2 linked regions of the Homo sapiens genome follow. The main gene of each other region encodes a partner of the protein of the gene in region 2 in a complex. Links are inferred from orthologs where the notes say so. Each region holds a gene or a part of one and is shown on either strand. Other genes may lie near its edges.

Region 1 (7,526 bases), on a different chromosome or scaffold from region 2:
ATCTATCTCCAGAGAATGGGGACCTAGAAATCTATGTTTTAGAAAATCTCTCCACGTGATTCTGAAAGGTGACCAGATATTGCACCCATGCCCTAAGGGACTTCAGATGTAAAATTTGAAGTGTCTAGTCTTCTTGAGAAATGACTTATAGGTTTTACTTGATTCTCAAGAAAATGTAACACCAAAAAGGGTCACTGCTTTAGACACTGGTAGTAAAATTAAAGGAGCCACTATGCACTTTTCCACTTCAACTAAAAGAATTATTTGAAGTTGTCTTCCACAGCTCTCTAAAAAATGGCTATGTCTTTTGAGAATTAGAGGTAAAACCGGAGGAAAAAACCACTTTTTTGAACTTTATGACATTTAAATAGTTTATGACCAAGTGATCACTATCACATGTCTGTGTGTCAGGTGAATTTATCTTAATATGGGTAAACTTAAGAGTGGTAATTTGTTTTAATAAGTTTTCCTCTAAATTTTTTTCCTTTATAATTATCATTTTGATTGGTAATTAAAAACAGGGCCCACAGCACTTAACCTGAAACTGGGTCATCTAAAGAACTCAACATTGATTCTTCTTTAAATATGTTTTTACCATTTATTTAAAATATGAAGAAACCCATGAATCCAAAGTAGGCATTATCATCAACTAAAAGAAAGTAAGTTATGTAAACTATTCTTTATCTTACGTTTTCAATTTCCTTTTCCCTTCTGAATCATTTCCCTTATACACCCTAGAATGTTCTCTTACAAAAAAAAAGTATTCTTAAAATGAAATAGCAGGAAAAAACAAAGTAGTAATACATATTTTTCTCTTTTGTTTCACTACCAATTTTTTTCAAGAATAATTTGTACTTACTGTCTCCACTCCTCATCCTTTAGTCAACATTTATTGAGCCCCTAATACAGTGATACAGTGAGACTCAATCCTAGTTGCACATTCAGATCACCTGGGAAGCTTTAAAACAACAACAACAACAACAACAAAAAGGAATTACAGACACTCCAGGCCTCACCCACAAGAGGAGCCTGTGCGTTCATTTTGTTTATAAACTCTCCAGTTGATTCTAATGTGCAGCCAGAGTTGAAAATCACTGATTTAATACAGGCTAGGCGCTCTACTGGAATTACAAAGATGGTGAAGACATAAGGCCTGGCCCTGAAGAACACAGGAAATAAGGACAACAGGTAAATTTATTAAAACTGGTAAATGTTATAACAAAGATAAGTACAAATTGCTTAGGGAGCAGAGGTATGTCAGGATACAAAAGAAGAGAAGAAAGTCCTTGAGTCTGGTTATCCAAAGATGAGTAGTTTACAAGGCAAACAAGACTGAAATGCCGTTTCTGGAAAAGGGAAAATACACACATACTTTTTATTATAGACTCCAGTTATCTGGCTTATGTCTCTCCACTCCTTGCTCCAAACACTAGTAAAATTATTCTCTTGAAGGCCACTAATCCCTAGTCCACCACTTAAACAGCCTTAACTGCACCAGTTTCCTGTCTGTACAATGAAGATAATAACAAGGTTATTCTGACAATTAATAGAGAGAATACATGTTAAAGTCCCTGGCATAGAGTAGGTATAATTTGTTTCTCATTCCTTTCTCTTAAATCCAAAGGCTTTTTTCAATCTCATACTCCTTAATCTCTGCAACACTGAGCACCGCTCCTTCTTGAAATTCTCGTCACATTCTGTGACCTCAGCACCTACTCTGTGCTAGCTATCAGTAGGTAACACTTCGACCTCAAGGGTTTCTCCTCACCTTTAGGTCTCTCTCCACTTCTTATTCCTCAAATCAAAGTATAAAGTATACGCTTCCTGCCCTCTCCTCTTTCCCATGTCTAAGCTTTTTGTCCTAAAGGGCTTATCCCATCTCGCTTTAACCCACAAAAAGAGGATTCTCAAATCTCTATATAATCTCTGGAGCTGACCTCTTTTCCAAGCTGTTTCTCTATCTCCGTATCTGCTAGGCATTTTCACATAGACAATGACTAGCATCTCAAACTCCGTACAACCAAAACTAAATTCACCATTATTCCTCCCAGCTGTGTATCCTCTTTCCTGTGTTCTCCAGTTGTTACTAGTGGTACCAATTCCCAGTCATCCAGACTTTAATGTTCACAGTTTTCTCTGACTCACGCCTTTCCCCTATATTCATTTATCAAGTCTTCTTGATTCCAACTCTAAAATCTATTGGCGATCTTTTTTTCCTCCATTTCTTGTGGGACGAACTTAAACCAGGTCCTAAAGTCCACTTAAGCCAGGTTCTCAACTGTTCTTACCAGCTCTAATCTATCTAGACTCATGGGTCTCAACAAGGGGTGAATCTGTCCACCAGGAGACATTCTGGATTGGTAAGCCTGGGTTATGGTAGTGGCATATCATGTGGGCTAAGGATGTTGCTAAACACCCTACAACGCACAGCATGTCCACCTGCCCAACAATATCTGGCCCAAACTGTCAACATTGATGAGATGGAAAAACCCTGACAGTCAGCTGTTAAACAGCACAATTCACCTTTGCATCTCTTATTGTAAAAGTACCAAATATAGAGTAGACACTCAACTATTTAACTGAATTCTTTTTACACAAAACTCACTGCCTGCTTGTTCCCACTTTCCTGTTATTTTTCCCTATGTTGTGCTCTCTGGTATGAGCTTGACCCCAACTGATGTTTACCATACCCCTAGGCAGAAGTAGCTTTTCTATCTTCTAAATTTTTAGACCCAATTTAGTATGTATATTACATATGTCCAATTCCTCTTCGAATCTAGTTTTGCATTATATCTACCTTCCAGGTGATCGCTACACTTTAGTGAATTTAAAACTTAATCTATGCTGTCATTACTGCTATTCACAAATATTCCAATTCTCCTCTTCTGCCCTGACCTTTCTGAAATTAGGTTTATACATGTAACTTGCTTTAGCTAATTGAAATCTGAGCAGAAGTGACGTGAGCTCCTTCCAGCTACTCGGAAGGCTGAGGCAGGAGAATTGCCTGAACCCGGGAGGCAGAGGTTGCAGTGAGCCGAGATTGTGCCACTGCACTCAAGCCTAGGTGACAGAGTAACACTCCGTCTCAAAAAAACAAAACAAAACAAAAAAAACAAGTGTGCAATTCATTCCATTTCCTTCCCACCACTGCAGTGACTGAGAAGAAAGTTTAGATGGAAGCTCTCTAACCAACTGGAACGCTAAATTACTTCCCTGAGCAGGGCTCTCTGCTAACTCACGCTAGACATACATGGAATGAATGAGATGCAGTACAAAGCCTCCACATTCAACACCCTTGTGCTGAGATTTTAGGAGTTTTGTTACTGAACTATATCCTTGCCTATCCTGATTCACAATCAATATAAGATGCATAACTTTATGTACCACTAAACAAGGAAAAACGCTACCAATGAAATATTACAACCCATTGATTGTACAATGCAGCCTGATTTCAGAGATCTTAAAATATAAAAAAGTATCAGTACTGAAATCAGTGAAATGTGGTATATTTAGTAAATGAATGAAGATGGAGGTAAATGGATTTCAAAAGTCATTTCCAGTAGAAACACTGCGAATTAGAATGTATAAGAAAAGTTCTCAGTCATTAGATGCATAGTGAAACATGTAAATATGTCATAAGAGCAAGAATGCAAAAACTATACTTAATCCTCAAAATAAAATTTATGAAATTCTTTTTTGAAACAGCCATGGGTATTTTCATGGAACCTGTCAGAGAGTGGTTTTCAGAAGACAAAGACCCCATTTTCTTTGATATGCATGAATCTCCTATTTAACAAATTATTGCTATAATAACTTTAACAAATTTTTGCTTCAGGTGACTGATTAGGCTTTTAGGTCATAGCTTGGAACCACAGATCCAAGTTTTGCCATCCTGCTTTTCAACCTTAAAAATTATTTTAGATTCTCTGCTCTAAGTGTTTTCATATCTGTATTCTCACACTAACATGCAATTATTCTATCTATTCAACTACTCATGCAAAAATGGCTCCCAAATGCACTGAAAATTTACTACAAATTTACTTTAATGTACAAAGTCTGAAAAACTCCACTAATGCTACAGCTGCTATCAAGTTCCTGTCTGCAACAGAAGTTTTTACACTTTATTGGTGAAATAACATAATTTATCTATAGAATAGAATTAGGAATGAATATTGTCCACATTAATAGCTTTTTGCTTGAGTTTACCTTCTCAATAATAAGAATTTTTTTTTAAACTTTTTGAGATGGAGTCTTGCTCTATTGCCCAGGCTGGAATGCAGTGGTGCGATCACCGCTCACTGCAACATCCACCTCCCGGGTCCAAGCGATTCTCCTGCCTCGGCCTCCCGAGTAGCTGGGACTACAGGTGCACGACACCACGCCCAGCTAATTTTTTGTACTTTTAGTACAGACAGGGTTTCACCATGTTGGCCAGGCTGGTCTCAAACTCCGGACCTCAGGTGATCCACCTGCCTCAGCCTCCCAAAGTGCTGGGGTTACAGGTGTGAGTCACCGCGCCCAGCCAATAAAAACATTTCTAATTTTACATTAATATTATGAAATACAATGGCAGCTTATATTGTTTTTACACACACAAAATTTCTGAAGCCAGTCACTGAGGGAGAAGTATATAAACTGCAGGTACAGCCATCCTATTCATCACATGGTAGAGTAACAACAGATGCTAAAGATGACATTATGTCTCCACTTAGGAATTCCAATGGAAAAGGGAAAAAACGGTAAGCAAATAACTATTACGCAAAATTGTATTTAATACTAACGATCTCTTGAAGAGTTCAGATGAGAGGCTAAACTAGCTGTGTAATCTAAGCTAAATCTTGAGAGATGACTGAGATTTTCATGTTTCAAAAAAGGGGACAGACCTGGGAGCAGTACCAACACTCAAAGTAGATGAAAAGTCATGAGCAGAGAAAAATAACTACCATTTATTGTGCGCTTACTACATGCCAAGCCCATTTAGACTTACAACAACTTAATGAAGAAGGTACTTACTACAACATTCTAACATTTCAGAGCAAACTGAGGCTGAGAGATTAAATAATTTATCTGAGGTGCTAGAAATGGACCAGTGGCTGGGAGTGGTCGCTCACGCCTGTAATCCCAGCACTTTAGGAGGCCAAAGCTGGCAGATCACCTGAGCTCAGGAGTTCCAGACCAGCCTGGGCAACATAGCGAAACCCTGTCTCCACTAAAAACACAAAAATTAGCTAGGGACGCAGGTGTGTGCCTGTAGTCCCAGCTACTCAGGAGGCTAAGACAGGAGAATTGCTTGGGCCTGGGAGACAGAGGTTGCAGTGAGCCGAGATCGTGCCACTGCACTGCAGCCTGGGTGACAGAGTGAGAATCTGTCTCAAAAAAAAAAAAAAAAAAAGAGAGAGAAATGGACTAGTATGCAGCTCTCTGAAGTCTCTCTAAATTCACAGCACGATTAAGTAACAATACGTATTGAAAATGTCAGAACTATTTAGGTTAAAATGGAATACAAGGCCATGAATACCATTTTAAGAACTTGGCTTCCTTGTAAAGGCAATGGAGGATCCAGGCACTAAAATTTTGAGAGTAGAGAAATGACAAAGTAAAGCATGGCTTAGATACAGGAAACAGGAGGGATTAGTCTAGAAATTTTCTAGTAAAAGCCTAACAGTGGCAAATATAACAGAAGGGAAAGAACAGATATGAGACATTTTTCTTGACTTTACTTCTTAACTGTTGGCACAGAACAAGTATAATCAAGTTGCATTCTGTTTGTACAGTGAAATTTTGTTACCAAACATTATTTAACAATCAGGTCAATGCAGAGATAATAAACGAAGTATTAATATAAATGAATTAACTTTTCAAGCAAGAAATAAGTTATTTGTATAATACATATTTTGACGATGGAAGTGACAACTTTTACCAGTTGATTGTAAGGTACAGGGCCAAAAAAAGTTAGAATAAATCTGAAATTAAAAACCAGGATGACTGGAATAATGGGAATAAAGATATAAAGAGAAAAATTATCAAGAGTAGATTATACCCCCCTTTGTGTGAGAGGAAAGAAGATGGGCGTTTATAAATTTACTTCTAGGCAAGCTCCATTTGAACATACCTAATTAACCATCTCCAGTGAACATGAATAGCAGATAAAAATCTGACCAGTAATCAGGAAAGAAGTTAGTGCTACAGCTATGTACCTGGGAGACAACTGCAAAGACCTAAAAGTTGAAGCTATGGGACAGATTATTGTAATCACTGAGGTAAAGGGTTACAGGAAGAAAAACGATCTTTCCCATCAGTAACTAAGTGTATTCCTTCTGGAACTTGAATCTCTTATCCAGAGAGAGGTTTCGGAATGGGTCTTTTCAATTGAGCCTTACACCATAATTTCATACAATTTCAAATTCACAAAAATGCTTTACTGTACAATACAGCTGACCCAGGAATGAAAATGAACTGTTTTTGGCCTAGGGTTTCTGTAACTATGTAAAAAAGTCTATGGGAGGCCGGGCACGGTGGCTCACGCCTGTAATCCCAGCACTTTGGGAGGCCGAGGCGGGTGGATCACGAGGTCAGGAGATTGAGACCATCCTGGCTAACACGGTGAAACCCCGTCTCTACTAAAAATACAAAAAATTAGCCGGGCGCGGTGGCAGGCGCCTGTAGTCCCAGCTACTCGGGAGGCTGAGGCAGGAGAATGGCGTGAACCCAGGAGGCGGAGCTTGCAGTGAGCCGAGATACCGCCTGGGTGAAAGAGCGAGACTCCGTCTCAAAAAAAAAAAAAAAAAGTCTATGGGACACACTATAGCAAGTTAAGAGCTTTAAAGAACTTCATTGTGTTCTTCAGCTAAATTTATTTCCCATTCACCCAGTGGCCAAAGGAGAAAAGGTTATTAAACTTCATAGTAGTATCCTCAAAAAGCAATTGTGTATGATTTTAAAAAACAAAACTATTATTCTAGATTGATTTCTAAAATGCTTCCTATCAGTAACATAACACCTTTAAATGTGTTAATAATAAGCTTTATTCTAAAATCATCAAGACAAAAATTTAGAACCTAACACTATTTGCTTGGTATTACTTTTTAAAAAAGGGCTAGGAATCATGGCTCATGCCCGTAATCCCAGCACTTTAGGATGCCCAAGTGGGAGGATCGTTTGAGCCAGGAGTGTGAGACCACCCTGGACAACATCGTGAGACCTTGTCTCTACAAAAAATTTTTTTAAATTTGCTGGGTGTCCTGGCACACCTGCCTGTACTCCCAGCTACTTGGGGAGACTGAGGTGAGAGGACTGCTTGAGCCCAGGAAGTTGAGGCTGCAGTGAGCCATGATCACCACTGCACTCCAGCCTGGGTGGACAGAGTGAGACCCTGTCTAAGGAAGAATCAACGTTTCTCCTTTTTCAAAATAAGCTGTCAACAAATTAAAAATGAAGAGACAAAACCAGAAGAGGTTCTTATCAATTTTGTTTAAGAAAGCATAATGTCTGCTGGGCATGGTGGCTCACGCCTGTAATCCCAGCAC
Region 2 (8,107 bases):
CCTTGTCCACAGCATCCACATCCTTCTGGGCCTGTGGTGGGAGGAGAGGAAGAGGGAGGTGTATAGGGAAGGGTACAGCACTGAGTCAGAGGCAAGGGGGTGGTTGAGGAGCAGGAGGCAAAGATGAGCGAGAGGAACTGCATTGAATTATGGGACTCTTCTAGGCCTCCTCAAAGGTCTTGAGGGCTTCTGTTGCCTACAGCATAAGCTCTTTCACCTGGCAGAATGAATAATAATGACACCAGTTACCGTATGTTCAGTGCCTATAATAAAGCAAGCACTACACTAGGAGCTTTACAAGCACTGTCTAATTTAATTCTAATACAAATAATGTGAGGTATGTTTCATTATTTCCATTCTAGAGAAGAAACAAATTGGTAATCGGTGGTTAAATAAATATGCCCAAAGTCCCACAGCTAGAAAGTAGCAGGGCTGGAATTTGAACCCAGTCCAATAAAACCTCAAAACCGGTGCACTTTCTACCGTATCCTGAGGCTTCTTTACTTTGGGGCCCTGGTTAGCCTTAGCAGCCTAGTTTTCTACATCCTTCATGCCAGTTGAATGAAACTACTGACATGCTCCACATTCTTCTTTCTCCCATGCTTTTGTTCATTCAGTTACCTCCTCCTAAAATGTCTGCATTTACCCAGATAATCTTCCAATGGAAATCCATGGTTCAAGTGCCACCTCTTCAGGAAAGCCATCTGACTTCAATCAGGTTAATAATCTCTCATAACCCTTTCTGGTACATCTGTTAAGGCTCTGTGTATTTCCTGGAGTTCATGGTTTACTTTTAAGTGTCAATCTTTCCCTTCTAAGTCTGTGTGTCTTATTATTGATGAATCTACACAGGGCCTAACACTTAACAGGTGATCAATAAACCAGGGCATTTTGACTTGACCCAGGAGGAGTAGGGGAGCCTGGAAAAACCCAGGAGAGAAGCCTGGGAAAGGAAAGAAAGAGGCTAGGCTGAGCTGGAGGTGGGGTGGGGAGATAGCAAGGGGGTGTCCACCCCATTCCCCCAACCTTCACCCACTCCACTCCCACTCCACCACTCTATGCTCACATCCAGGAAGCCAGAGAGCTCCGTCTGCAGCAGCTCTTTCAGCTCCTTCTTGCTCAGCTTGTACTTGTCCCCCTCTTTGCCCGAGTGGGCGTGGAACACGTTGATGAGGGTCTCCATCGCCGTCTCCAGCTCAGAGCCCATTGCAGCAGTGCACCTACCCACCCCCATCATGGAAGTGAGCTGAGGACCAGGCCCGGAGTACCTGGGGTCTAGGTGAGGGGAACCCTCAGGACTGGCCCTGGCTGACAGCTCAAATAGCTGTGGGATTAGAGCCCTACTGCAATTGATCTTTCCCTGAGATTTTACAATGTGAGGGAAACCCCAAGAGACCTAAGTGCAGGCCTGTTCTCTGTGTCCCTCAGTCTGTACCCCAGCCAGAGGGAATCAGGGTTGGGGCATGGAGAGAGAGCAGTTGGAGCTGGGCTGGCTCCAGAGGCCTGTGGTAGATGTCTGCAGTGGCTGCCCAGGCAGGGATTGAGGAGGGTGGGGCAGGCAGGGGTGGTCACAGGACTGGGCCATGCTTCCTCTGGCTCTATTTTTACCCTGGACCTTGCCTGTCTAGCATAGCCAAGCTCTGCTGTTGAGGGTGGTGGGCTGGGGTGTCCACTACAGCCTTCCTTCTGCTGCCCACCCCTAGCAAGGAGTCAGTCTGGTACCCTCGGTCAGCCTGGTAGAGGGGATGGCAGCCCCAGTGGGTGGCGTACGCCTTCTGGGGGAGGGAGGTCTCACTGACTCTGAGTTTCCTGTCAGCAGCTGGGGGCCCCTTTTGGTCCTTCAACTCTGTTCTCTCCTGAACATGTCATTTTGGCTTCTTTGGGATATGCTCCCATTGCCTCTGCAAAATTATCCCTTCCATCTGGTGGGTGGCAGAAGGGGAGAGAGGAATGTCTGAGCCTTTTCCTTGGAGCCAGAGTTCCCAGGGAGTGGGAGAGGAGACCTGCAGGCGTTGTCCCTGCAACTGCTCACTCCTGGTTGATTCGGGGATAGTGGGAGCAAGGGGAATGGGGCTGCTGTGTGTTGGGGGAGAGAAAGGGCTGAAAGCATGCGGTCCTTTGAGTTCAAGGGGCTGGGAGAGAGTAGGAGAAGAAAGGAGAAAGGAGTGGTCTGTTGAGAGAGAAGACTGCCAAGCCGGGGGGCCTCTTTCCCTTGGCCCTGGGACAGTCTGGCCTTCCACAACCCCAGAGGGGGCAGCTCAGGTGTCTCGGATCAGATGTCCCCATCCTTCCCCAGGCCTAGGGGGCTGGACAATGGCCCCTGATCGAATGACATCCCAGTTCTTCAATGGGGCCCTTGTGAGTGTCATCTGAACTCCGGACCTGAGAAGCAGTTGTCACAGAGACATGGGGGAGATGGAACCCAAGCTGTGGCTGATGAGGGGATAAGGGGTGCTTGAGGGAGGGGTGCTGGTAGCTTGATTACCTGCTCCATGCCAGAGGGGCAGCTGGAGGTCACCTGGAGCCCTAAAGCAGCCTGGGATTTTACGTGGTGGCAGTTCTGAGAGGACTTGGGGGCAGGGGAGATGGGGAAACAAAGAGGTAAGAATGGGGGGAAAGAGGAGTCAAGAGGTCTGGGCCAAAAATGGGAGGAGGAGAAAGGGGAGGTCCTGTGGAGGTCGAGTTGGGAAGGGGCACAGCACCCTACATCTCTGCTTCCCCATATCATGGGAGCTTTGCCCTGCCACCCCCAGACTCCCCCGGGACCTGAGCTCTTGGCAAGGCAGGGTGGGGGTGGCAGAGACTAAGGCTGGCAGGAGAGGTGGGGGCAGAAACAGCTGTTGTATCTGCTCTCTTCTTACCCCACAGGAGGCGAGGCAGGGGAGGGCTGGGACCCTTCCCAACACCTGGGAGACAGAGGGGGCCTTGGCAGGGACTTGAGGGCTCCCTGTGGGAGGGCCAGGCGGTCAGGAAGCTCATGGTGGGTTCCCCACTGGCTTCCTCCTTTGCTGAGCTGCCAGCTCTCTCTCCGACCTTCAGTTCATTTGTCTCTCATCACCACCTTCCAAACCCTGTCTCCCCCAAATCCCAAACTGCCCTCACCCTGACTGACTCCTCCCAGATCCTCAGTGCTCCACAGTGCTATGGTCCCCAGCCTCTTGGAGCCCTTCTGAAGACCCCTCTCCCTGAAGCTGGCAGGCCAGGGACTAGCCCAGTGGGGCAGGGTACTCACGGTTGGCCTGGGCCTGAGGTGGGAGCAGGTTCTGGACAGATGGCCAAGGTTGCAAATGTGGCTGCTGGAGCTGTGTGTGGAGACCTGTCTTCAACAGTCCCTCCCCCGCTGACCCCCCCACCGACTCCACCCCTTCACAGACGAACACCCTGTGGGGCAAGGGGCCAGGAGCAGACAGAGGCGCCCTCTGTCTCCTGGGCTGGAACAGGCGGCCCTTGTCTCTTTCCCAGCCTTGCTTGCCCCGTTCCTTTCTCTCCAGGCAGCAGTGGATGGTGCAGGGGAAAGAGGTGGGAAGGAGGTCCTGGGAGGGACACTGGATGTCTTACCCCAAGCTGGGCCTTGCAGTACCTGTGGCTGGCTGTGCTGGTTGAGCCCGGTAAGGGGGGAATTCTGCTGAGGGGGTCTTAGTCTGTGGCTCCTCCATGGGGCCTCACTGAGAGGACCCTCAGTGAGAAACTTAGTCTTGGGAGTCTGAGAACCCACAGAGGGATTTCAATCCAGGACTCTTCTCTGGGGGTCTCAACCTGGATCCCCCTCTGTGTGTGGGGCCTCAGCCTGGGGTTCTCTGAGGGATCTTGGTCTGTAGCATCCTTTGTGGGATCTCATTCCAAGGGGCCTCTGTGTGTGTCTCAGATTGGGCCTCTCAGTGTTGAGCTCCCTTGATTGGTTGCCTCCCTCTTCCCCCCTCAGCATACACACTCCTGATTAGACATGGGTATGGTGGCAGCAGCCCCCAGTATTGAGAGGACTAGGACCCTGGGACCCCTGCCGAACGAGATCTGTCCAGGCAGCTCCTCTCCCTGACCAAGTGGGGGCGCTCGTGTGGCTGGCAGGGAGCCCGGGTCCAGACCTGAGGGCTCAGGGCAAGCGGCCTGATTGGGCTGTCTCTGGTCTTCAGAATCGACCACGGAAATTTGACACCTCCGGGCTTGGAAGCAGCTCTCTCCTCCTTCCCCGCTGCTTATAAACCTCAGCCCTGAGGCTCCAGCTCACTCTACCCCATCTCCTTGCCGGGTGAGTCTCATGGCTGACCCTGGAGGGAGGCTGGAGATCATTTTTTCTTCCTGGGCTCCCAGGTCCCTCCCCCAGAGCCAGCTCAGACAGGAATTCAGGAAGGAGCTTTGGATGATCGAGCAACAGCGCGTGCAGGAGTGTGTGACGGGGTGGACAGAAAAGAGAATGCCTCTTCCAGCCCCACCCGCCGCACCCCAGGGGGTTGTGAGTGCCTGTACTAAACCCGTCCTGGAGCAGGGAGTCAGAGACGCCCCGTTCCAGGACCCTTGTCACCGGGAGACAGGAGCGGGGAGGATCTGTGGGGTCCTGGGTTCAGCACTCTGCCCTGCTGCCGCTGAGGAGAGGTAAGGGTGGAGCGGGGCAGAGAAAATGGGTCTGTTCAGACGGAGCCAGCTCTGACCACAGGGGACATTTGCCAGACCCTGTGCTTCTCTGCTGGGAGGAGCGGTTAGAGTGTGTGTGGGCGGATGCGAGTGGCCGGAGACCAGGGCCCAACATAAACAAGCTTTGGAGACAAACAACCTTATGACCTGTGAGTCTGGGTGAGACAAGAAGGGATTCTTGAGACAGACACGCCACAGAGGGGCCACCAGACTTGAAGGACTCCAAGAAGGACCTTCAACTGAAGACCTCCTCTCAAGTAGAGGGGTCTCCAGATCGAGGGATCACCACAGAGGGGTCCCTAAGCCACAGACATTTAAAAAGGATCCCGGATTGTGAGACCTACAGAAGAGGGGGTTTCTGGAGCTGAATCTCCTGCCCCCACCAAAACTGAGATGCCGTTGCCTGGTCTGCTGCCCCAAGCTCAACCCCTGTCCTCTCCCTCTTTCCCCATATGCCCCCTCCAGGCTGAGACTGATGTGATAACACCAAGGCAGGGACCTTCTGAACCATTCCTGCATCTTGGGGCTCCCTGACTCTCCCTCTCTGCTCCTTCTCTCTTCCACAGGTCAGCCCTGACAAAGGTCAGCTAGCCCCTTGAGGACATCAGCTTTGGCCTCAGGGTCCTAATGGCAGCAGAACCACTGACAGAGCTAGAGGAGTCCATTGAGACCGTGGTCACCACCTTCTTCACCTTTGCAAGGCAGGAGGGCCGGAAGGATAGCCTCAGCGTCAACGAGTTCAAAGAGCTGGTTACCCAGCAGTTGCCCCATCTGCTCAAGGTAGGCAGAAGTCTGGGACTGAGATTTTGTGAGATGATGATTATGGGACACTGTGTTTAGGACGTGATGGTGCCGAGTACGGTGAGGTGACCACAAGAAAGGGTGTGGGTGGCTGCATGTGTCAATGGTTGCAGGTTTTCTTTTGTTTTTTCGAGACAAAGTCTCACTCTGTTGCCCAGGCCGGAGTGCAGTGGTGTGATCTTGGCTCACTGCAACCTCCATCTCCGGGGTTCAAGTGATTCTCCTGCCTCAGCCTCCTGAGTAGCTGGGATTACAGGTGTGTGCCACCACGCCGAGCCTATTTCTGTATTTTTAGTAGAGACAGGGTTTCACCAGGTTGGCCAGGCTGGTCTCGAACTCCTGACCTCAGGTGATCCACCCGCCTCGGCCTCCCAAAGTGCTGTGGTTACAGGCGCAAGCCACTGCGCCTGACCCGGTTGTGAGTTTTCTTGCCTGGTGTGTACATGTGTGTGTTTGTGTGTCCATGCATATAATTAGGTAAGCAAAGATACTATGTGCCAGTGGGAGTATGGTCTTGTGTCAGAAGATGCTGTTGGGTTCTTGTGTATGCTCTGTGCCTTTCTGGTCTAATTTCCCCAAGACAGGACTGGACCCAGAGCTGGCTTCCAGGAGATTCACAGACTGTCAGAGCTGGAAGGAGGCCAAGAGAAAACACAGTCCGCATTCCTCACTTCACATATATGGAAACTGAGGCCTAGCAGTGGAAAGGGGCTTATCAAAAATGAAAACACAGCCAAATTCATGGAGTCATAGACCTCAGTGTAGGGGGTCTGTGGGTGCATCTGTGAAGACTCCCTACCCGCTATGGGCATCCCCTTACTAGGGTGTAAGAGTCATTCCTTCTCTCGCACTCACAGGCTGGAGTCAGGTCTTAAATTTCATCGACTCTGGCCTCGAAGAGGCCTGGTCATTCTGGCTGTTGACAGTTTGTTTTACATCCTTTCTGAAAATCCACAGGCACGTTGAAGTGTGTGAATATGGACTCCTTGAACACAGTGAGTCTCTGAAACTCATGGTCTTTCATCTGCAAAATCCCCTACAACTTCCAACTTCTCAGACTTTTTTTTGAGACAGGGTTTCTCACTCTGTTGCCCAGGCCACTGTGCGATCACAGCTCATTGCATCCTTGACCTTCCGGGCTCAGGCAATCCTCCTGCCCCAGCCTCACAAGTAGCTGGGACCACAGGCGCATGCCACACTGCCTGGCTAATTTTTTCTTTTTTTGTGACAGAGTCTCACTCTGTCACCGAGGCTGGAGTGCAATGGTGCGATCTTGGCTCACTGCAACCTCTGCCTCCTGGGTTCAAGTGGTTCTCTTACCTCAGCCTCATGAGTAGCTGGGATTACAGGCAACCGCCACCATGCCTGGATAATTTTTGTATTTTTAGTAGAGACGGGGTTTCACTATGTTGGCCAGGCTGGTTTCGAACTCCTGATCTCAGGTGATCCACCTGCCTCGGCCTCTCAAAGTGCTGGAATTACAGGCGTGAGCCACCGCGCCTGGCCTAATTTTTAAGTTACTTGTAGAGATGTGGTCTCTCTGTGTTTCCCAAGCTGGTCTCAAACTCTAGGCCTCAAGTGATCCTCCTGCATTGGCCTTCCAAAGTGTTGGGATTACAGTCATGAGCCACTGTGCCCAGCCAGACGTTTCCTTTTTCATCTTTTTTACTGGAAACTTCAGGTTCTCTCCTGAAGGGACAGCATTCCTTATATCCTTGTCAAGCAGTGATTGTGGTTTTTTTTTTTTTTTTCCTAAATTCAACTTCCTCTGGGCCTGGAAATGGAGGAAGTGACCTCTCTGCTTTCCATTATCTCTAGATTTTAGTTTCTTCTTCTTTCTAAGACTTCCCAGCGCCTTGGAAGATCATCTGCCACCTGCCATTCTTCTTATTGCGCTCCTTACAGCTCTTCAGCTCCTGGCTCACTGTTTTCTTCTCATCACTGCTTCTGTTGTTATTCTCAGTGGCTTCAGCATCCGCACAGACAATTCATCCAACATCTGGGCCTTTCAATTTTCTCAACTCCTCATTTCCAAAAAGATTTGTCTTCTTACATCTCAGCATCCCACTCCTCTGTTCATGCTTTAGACTGTGTCATTAACAAAATAACGCACAACTTCCAAAATCTTGATTTCAAGTTTCCCTTTATCTGCTGACCTCCTCCTGTCATTCCAGTTCTGTTCCCCTCTCTAGCTTCTCCACTTCAGCACTTCCCTGACTCCTCAGGTACCTTCAGTCTCTCGACCCTCTCACTTTTGCATCTTCCATCAACATCCCTCGGGTCCTCATTGCCCTTCCTCCTCACCTCAGGTTCTAAGGCTTCTAATTGTAATCACTGCCTTAACCCCGTTGATTCTGTCTCTCTCTGTTCTCAACCCAGTTAATCCACCATTTCACCTATAGTAACTTGCCAGTTAAATCCACTGTTCTGCACCTGCACTTGGATAGCTGAATCTGGCTGGAGAAAAATGCATAGCTTTGTTGACTTGTCTCACTTTAAATCTATAACCACAGACCCCAAAAGGGACCCTTGGCAATACCTGGCGGTTCTGTGTTTCCCTGGTTGATTCATTTACCAGTTCTTTCAGATAATTATTTCACAATTTGTCTTCTCTCCTCAAAGCTCAGTACATCTTTCCACGTTCTCCCTTTTCCTGAGAAGTTTACTCACTGAGAAG

What was found.
Region 1: the proteins of S100A1 (region 2) and CAPZA2 are in contact, whole or in part, in an NMR structure (PDB 2KBM), measured with the Rattus norvegicus proteins. The link is inferred for Homo sapiens from one-to-one orthologs. Residues at the interface, in NP_001007637.1 of Rattus norvegicus: Ser44, Phe45, Leu46, Asp47, Lys50, Asp51, Ala54, Lys57, Ile58, Glu61, Leu78, Ala81, Leu82, Thr83, Ala85, Cys86; in NP_001009180.1 of Rattus norvegicus: Thr267, Lys268, Ile269, Asp270, Trp271, Asn272, Lys273, Ile274, Leu275, Ser276.

What each region holds. Positions count from the first base shown.
Region 1 is NC_000007.14:116,865,449-116,872,974, reverse strand, and holds part of CAPZA2 (F-actin-capping protein subunit alpha-2), read right to left. Parts: intron 1-7,526. UniProt on the Homo sapiens protein: F-actin-capping proteins bind in a Ca(2+)-independent manner to the fast growing ends of actin filaments (barbed end) thereby blocking the exchange of subunits at these ends.
Region 2 is NC_000001.11:153,623,622-153,631,728, reverse strand, and holds the start of S100A1 (protein S100-A1), read right to left. Parts: upstream 3,296-8,107; 5' UTR 3,233-3,295; intron 1,221-3,232; 5' UTR 1,208-1,220; coding exon 1,067-1,207; intron 719-1,066; coding exon of another isoform or gene 651-718; exon of another isoform or gene 32-650; coding exon 1-31. Other genes in the region: S100A13 (protein S100-A13), read left to right, coding at 651-718, 3,492-3,608, 4,131-4,199. UniProt on the Homo sapiens protein: Small calcium binding protein that plays important roles in several biological processes such as Ca(2+) homeostasis, chondrocyte biology and cardiomyocyte regulation.